Linked DNA regions of Homo sapiens. The protein of the gene in region 2 interacts with the protein of the main gene of each other region in a pairwise test. Each region holds a gene or a part of one and is shown on either strand. Other genes may lie near its edges. The genes, in order: CCDC85A and STMN2.

What was found.
Region 1: the proteins of STMN2 (region 2) and CCDC85A interact in a two-hybrid assay, tested with the Homo sapiens proteins (one large-scale study listed by BioGRID and IntAct).

The regions. Positions count from the first base shown.
Region 1 is NC_000002.12:56,344,416-56,348,249, reverse strand, and holds part of CCDC85A (coiled-coil domain-containing protein 85A), read right to left. Parts: intron 1-3,834. UniProt on the Homo sapiens protein: May play a role in cell-cell adhesion and epithelium development through its interaction with proteins of the beta-catenin family.
Region 2 is NC_000008.11:79,617,532-79,621,365, reverse strand, and holds part of STMN2 (stathmin-2), read right to left. Parts: intron 425-3,834; exon of another isoform or gene 404-424; intron 235-403; exon of another isoform or gene 162-234; intron 1-161. UniProt on the Homo sapiens protein: Regulator of microtubule stability. When phosphorylated by MAPK8, stabilizes microtubules and consequently controls neurite length in cortical neurons.

The DNA.
Region 1 (3,834 bases), on a different chromosome or scaffold from region 2:
GCACAACGAATATATACTGCTTTCCAAGCAGATGTGGGCGCCAGAGCATTTGATCAAAAAGAACAAATTTCCTAATAGGACTTTTAACAAATGTATTTAATTGACTTAGGAGCTACAGCAAACTGCTTGTTCATGTCTCTAGTCGAGTCTCTTTGTGATGCAAAATCCCAAGTCAGCACAAAATAGGTGAGAATAGTTTAATAATAACTTTTACCTCAGCATTACATGTGAATAGTAACTGATGTCTTAAAGGGTAGTACTATTTACTTTATAATAAACTCATCAGGTAGGTATTCTATATCATCCATTTAAAGATATTTTCTAGTTGAATAGGCCTCACTGCACATGCAGCATATAAACATATCGACTATGTCTGGATTAAAAAATCTTTGTGACCATCAAGAAAAGGATAATGAATGGAGTAGAAAGAGCTAAGCAAGGTTTTTGAATTTGGGCTAAAAATCAAATTTCAATTTTAAAATTTCAGTTTTAAAACCATGACTGTAACTATCAGTTCCCCCTATCCACCCTCCTCCAGTTCACTCTGAACCAAAAGGCCCTCTCTTACCACATTCTGTTAAGCATAAATTTTCCATGCAGGGGTGGGAATTTGTGTGTATATAATAAACCTTTATGGTTTTCAAGTACTATGGAAATGTGTCAGGGAGAAGACCCTGTAAAATGCACTTTTTGTTTTATTTATGTTGTATACCATGGCGTTAAGAAAAACTGAACATTTATTTTAAAGCAGGAATGCAATAAACATCTAACAAATCTCAGATGGCTAAGCAGATCCAATGTTAGTTTTTAAGATAAATGTTGGAAAAAATGAATTTGTCAATAAGATAAAAATAGGTTTAGTAGCTTAATTACACTGAATCATATTAATGGTATGAACGGATTAAGGGAGCCACTGTGCACATGCTAGAAAGAACACTGAATAGGCCTACATTTTATGAAGCCCGGCCTTCACTGGCTGCCTGACAGGAGGACGCTCCTAACCTCTGTGAACCCAATACACCTTGACTGAAAAGGGGGGTTGTCCTATGTGACACATAAGGTTCTATCCAGCTCTGGAAATTGATGATTCTTTGTATAGAGAAAACCTGTATTTATTTGTAAGTATGTATAGAAGATAGGTGTGTTCCTTTTTATTTTGATACAAAACTCCTTAAAACTACTTTACACCCTACTATGTCATTATTTACAAATGTCTACTTACATTATTCAGAGTGACTCCATCTCACTGGATTCAAAAGTTAATGAAATCTCATAGACAGCAGCTATATTTATTTAAATAAATTTATTTAAGCACGATTTTTGTTTGAGGTTCACATCACATCACATATCCATGCAGTGGAACTGACAGCCAATGTGAGCAGCTTAGCATTATGTGTATTATGTGTACTGTAAGAGATTATATGCAATTCTTTGAAAAAGATTTAACTGTGATCTGTAAAAAATGTTCCCATTTGTTCATGTGCTCGGAAGAATATCCTAAAGTCCAGGTGACCTTTAACTACCATTTGTACTAACTTTGAAGAGGCATTTTCTTCTCAATAATAATAACTAGCACATAATGCAGCATTTTCTAAAAATAATAAGACTGGCTCTTACCTTAGGATACCTTTGAAATGTTGTGTTCACAAACTGGGTTTAAAATACTGCTCAGTGATTCTTGCAGGACACAGTACACACCATGGCAGATCAAGGAGCTCTACATTCACTGGGGATGACTTGCCACGGTGGCTGTACAGAGGCTCCATCAGCACTTCCTGTGGGCTCCTCTTCACCACTGGATAAAACTAACTTAATCTTCACTGCCTTTATCTGTGAAAGAGTCCTTCATTCTGGGACTTGAACATTTTGTATATGTATAAAACATGGGCCCAAGCCTTTATTTACCCCTGAGCCCACAAAATGTAAGAGCTGAGAAGAACCCCTTCATTTACAAATGAAAAAATTAAGGTCTTTGCATCTAACCAGGGAGAAATCCACAAGCATTTATTATATTCATTGTGTTTATTTTTAAATATTTATATTGCTAGGGCAAAGTTGTGACTTTCTGTTCATTATATACAATTTTATATAAAGAATAAAAAGGAGCATTGAGGAAGATTTCTTCCTCCAGGACAGTGCTTTACATAATTAGTCTGAACTCTAAACTAAAAGCAAAAATTCTGGCTACAGCTGCAAAGGTGTTTTACATACTTGGGATTCCAGCTGCCAGCTACATTCTTACTTCTGTTTATTCAAAGACAAATGGACACGCTTTAATAAATTTGGGAGTGAAAAGGAATACCTTCTGATCAAGGCATAGCAAACAAATTCTTATAACTGAAAATCAAGTGTTCTAATATTGAGATTAACTTAGGCTAGGATGTCAGCTTTTCTCATTGAATTGACCTTGCAAATCAGCTAACATCATAGTTAGAAACAGTTTCTGCAGGGAAATCTCATGACACATTATTTGTAATAGTATCAGTAACATCTAAGAGTAAGTTGTACAGGTAAATGCCTTTGTGTAATCCAGCTGAAGTCTCAGTCTCCCATGAGAATTCTCTACATGATGCTCACTGTTCTGACATCCATTTATTGTGTTCCATCCTAGGGTCTTACCTACTGTCTGTATTCATGTTAGTTTGTATTTATAGGAGTAGCTGCAACTGGTACCTCTATTATATCTTAGTAGTAAATGAAGGCACCACTCTCTGATATAGAAATTTAACAGAAATCCTGTTTTTGAATTGACAGATCTACTGCATTCTTTGCATATGTCCAACAGCATATTTCAAACAATGGGTTCTCTTTGTATTAAATTACTTTGACAAGTAAATAACTAAATTACTTTGACAAATAAATAACTAAAACTAAAACATTGTTTTCCCATTTGTAACATCGCTGAAATCTGCAAGAATCTGGCATGGTATAACCGATACCATTTTTCTTTTGTAATGCTACATATCATGATGGTGCATCCCACATCAATAACATCTTAGCATCAATAAAACATGATCTTTCCTAGCCATTTCTTAGAGAGAAAAAAATGAAACAAAACAAAATGAACCAAAAAACCTTCCTTGGTAGCAAAATAGTAATGTATTTCAAAGGATATAACTGAACACTTTAAATTGAGTAGTTGTTTAATCTTGCTTAGTCTTAACTATGCAAGTACTATGTATTCCAATACACATAGACACATCAAGTATAGTTAAGGACTCTTCTGATTTTCCTTCAAGACTTCTAACACTCACTTTCACAGGTTTTTAAGAATCAGCCTTGTCATCATTTTCACATTTGTTGTGCCTCTTTTTTTTTTTGATAAGATGGCATACATGCTATTAGTTTGCTGTTTGATGTCAGCCTCAATTCCTTCTCAGAAGGAAACTAAGAACAAAAATCACTTGGATTTTTTTTCTATTTCTTTTACATTCCCAGTCGCCTGAGAGATGGCACAACCATGTATAATAAACTAACTAGATTTTGTAGGTTTCTTTGTAACAAGTAAGAAGTTAGATGTTTTCAGTCAAGGGCCTTAGGACAGTCATACTGTGAATTTAACATAAAAGGCAAAAAGGAACACAAAAAAATTTTAAAAGGAAAACAATGAAGAGCAAAGAGAAAACAAACCCACCAGTAGTATTTTATTTCATGACACAATCTCTTCTGTCATCATGAATTTTAACACATGTACAGTTTGAGAAGAGATAGAAGTACAGAATTCCACCCTTAGCCTCAGTTTCTGTTACTTGTAGTCAATCAGGGCCCAAAAATATTAAATGGAAAATTCCAGAAATAAACAAGTTTTAAATTGTGGGCCGTTTTGAGTAGTGT
Region 2 (3,834 bases):
AATGCATGCACATGGGTATTTATATCTAATGACAATTTAAAAACTCAACTTCTTGCATTTATATACTACTTGACAGACACTAATCACTTTCACGTTTTTTTCCTTGAGTCTGAAAAAGACCCTCTGATATGGACAAGGCAGTTCACATGGCTATTTTACAGATGCTGAATTAGAGGAACAAACAGGAAAATTGACCTGACCAAGGTGCGTCAGCAAGAGTAAAGACTGAAACTCAGAATCCCTTCTGGGCTCTTCCTTCCATGCAGCACCAGCAGCACTGGTGGAGAAGGGCAGAGCTGATGGGGACTTAGACTCTGACCTCTTGACGCCTTGTTGCAGAGCTCCACAGAGGACGTAACTCACATGCTGTCCTGGCCTGCTGCTTGGGGACCCTACAGGTCACTGCTGTTTTAGGTCTACTCCAAGTGTGGTTCTGAATCAGCCTCATCAGCACCACCTGGGAGCTTGTTAGAAATGCAAATCCATGGGACCTGCTTCAGACCTAATAGAGTGAGAACCTCTGGGGGTGGAGGCTAGCTCCTCAAACGCTGCTGATTCTCAGTAAAATTTGGGAAGCATTTTAATTAAAGAATTCTCTGGCCAGATTGGTTGATGGACTCATTAAATATTTAAATTTTTCAGCCTTTTGGTGGATCTTGGTACTTCCTAGTTGATGTTACTAGTGTATCATTATGTACTATCTTGTAATATTGTAGGGCAGTTTAACAAAATTGTTAAGATGGTGAAATTGTGAGATGGTGACTTCCATTTATAGTTATAAATTACCATTATTACTATTGAACTTTCTGACATGTACAGGATCTTTTTTTCTGCAAAAGACTAAATCCACCAAGGGTGAGGAACATTTTTATTTTTGTTCTCATAATACCTGGCACAGGCTTCAGAACAAAGTTGGTGCTCCAATCTATTTTACTTTAGTTAGTGACACTGACTATCAATGACTTTAAACTGAAGACAAATATGCCTCGTGTATGACTATTCTCACTGTGCATGTTTTATTACAGGACAGTGGAGGGAGTGCTAAACCTTATTTTGCATGAATGTGTATATATGTATGAAATAGGCACATACATGATATATAACATATTTATATATTACATATAAATATTTTGATAGGTAAATAATATACACAACTTTATTATATGTAATATATATATTATATGTTATAATATATATATAATATATATTAGACCTGTGTTCCGAGTCTGCCTCTGAGGCTTGCCACTGAATAAATTATTTGAGCTTAAATTTACCAATCTTTAAATAAGACAACTTGTATAGTATGCCCATCTCAGAGGGATTATATGAAGATTCAAAAGGATGAAGCAGGTGAATGTTTTCTAAAAATGACAAGGTCCCATATAGATAGATCATGCGATTTAATTTTTCTTTTGAACATTTTTTAGTCTTCTATGCTTGCCTGCTCCTTTTAAAAAACTATATAAGAAAAAAATCATCAGAAATATAATAAAAAGATAATTTTTAAAGTGACAAGAGTGCAGGATCATGTAATATGTCATTAAAAGACTAGAACAACTTTGGTAATTTTTCATGTGTTTGAATATTTATTATGAGAAGGGTGCTAATTGGAATTTCTCAGATAAAGCTGTAAGACTTAAATAATAACAATAGATATTTTTGTTGGAAATAAAAAGTAACTCTGCATTAATAAAAATAATTATGTTCTGAAGCAGAGTTCCCAGGGAGGCTGCAATAAGTCTATCCTAAAAGTGCCTGAGATGATTAATGTTCTTCCCGAGAGTCTGGAAATGATAACAGTACCATCTTGATGGGATTTTCTGGTCTCAGTTTTGTAACAGTCAATATATTATAAGTTGGGGTTGTTTCGTGTGAGTTAGGTTGCTCCTCACTAGGAAGCCCAAACTGGGAAACTATTATTATAATAGGTTTACTGTGAGCAGCTTTGTTAATGGAAGTTAAACTTTATGGCTGCATTTCATAAGGAAAAAAAACTTCCAAAGACAGAGTAGAATGCTAATAAAAATTTAATTTACACTTTAACATGCTCTCTTGTAAAAGTATTTGTGGGACTAGGTTTAGATAAATTTCACTCAATTCTCTTTATCCTGATATAAAGACATACAACTAAAAGATGGACAGATTTATTATCCTGATGATCTATTGTTATATTGGGTACTTGTACTAATGGTTAATGTGCGAACTCCAACATCCAAAATACAATTATTCCAGAAGAATAACTGCTAAATGGGCACTCTTGCAGGCGTTGCTTTACAATCTTTGTAAAAAAAAAAAAATCATTCAGTCCTAGGCAATATTTTTGCCCTATAAAAATAAATTATTTTAAATGTGCTCTATGAGAACTGTAATTATCTATTTCTTGCCATAAAATAAATTTTGAAACCCATAACTTTCCAGAGTATTAAATATTTTACTCTGGAGGTCAACAACAAGTGAGAACAAACTTAAAATATTTTTGTTATGGTTTTATAGTATAATATGTGGCTCCTACTCTAAGTACAATTCCTAAAGAAGCTATATTTCCACATGACCAGCAAAATGATGGCTGAAATGCATTAATTAACCTTTACACTCATATAAAAGTGTTTTGTGAGAACAAATGTACACAAATGTTATCTTTAATCATGACTAATAAAAATGGATATTATAAACACAAGCTTTACTACTGCAAATGTCTCCTTGACAAATGACAGGGCCTGATTCCTTTATTAAAAGATAATTAAAAATGTTTCACAAGGGATTCAAAACCTTCCTACAGTTCTCTCCTGCCTGCCTGCCTGCTTTGATGGTAATATGAAGAGAATCTTGAAATAACATCTAATAGTTATATTAAATGTGAATGTGTAAATTTATTTTATTCAACAAAATGTTAAAACTAAATATCTCTGGCCTATGGAAGTAGTTAAGGAGGCATTTTGAAATGTGCTAACCATGATGGGACTGAGGAGATTAAGTCAATGTTATTTCTGGAACTGGTCATCAGAGTGTGTTCCCACCAGAAATCGATGCTGTGCTGAGCCTGCAGAACGCCATGTGTCTCATACGTTACAACCCACACGGCCTCATAGCTCTCTTTCTCCCAAAGCCTAAATCATGGCAATTATTTGAATAAGCCCCAGGTAAGCTATTAAAACTAGGCATCAATTTGGAAGTATTTTCTCTTCAAGGTGAGTCTGTGATCAGAAAGGAGAAGACCATCTCTGGTCTGTTTAAATAAAATGGTGATATCACAGGTGTGACCTCTGCAATGGGAGCTCACCTCTAACATGGAACAGATATGAGACTAGCAGCAATCGGTGAAAGATGGATTCCGAAGCCAGATGGCCTGGGCCCAAATTCTGGATCTGACTAACTGTGTGACCTTGAGTAAGATACTTCAACTTTCTGTGCCTCAGTTTCCATATCTGTAATAGAACCTACTTAGGATTATTAAGTGATTAACACAGTTAATATGTGGAAAGTTCTTAGAACAATGCCTTGCATGTTATATGTGCTATACAAGGGTTAAATCAATCAATAAAAGTTACTTCCCATAGAGAATCTGGAATTTATGAATACACCAGAAAAACAGTTGAAAGAAAGCACCATTGCGGGAAAATGTTTGAGTAAAGAAATAGGAAGACTTATTGGCTCGAGGCCCTCAAGTTTAGATTTTTGTCATCTCCAAATGAGGTTATACAGAGAGCCCTGCCCGACTGCCAGAATTAAACATTTAAAACATGAATTACTTTTGTAATGCTGTCTTAAGTGTGTCTTCCTTTCCTTCAATGTACAAGAAATTGCAAAAATGGAAAGTTTCCCAGCTTCTGAGAG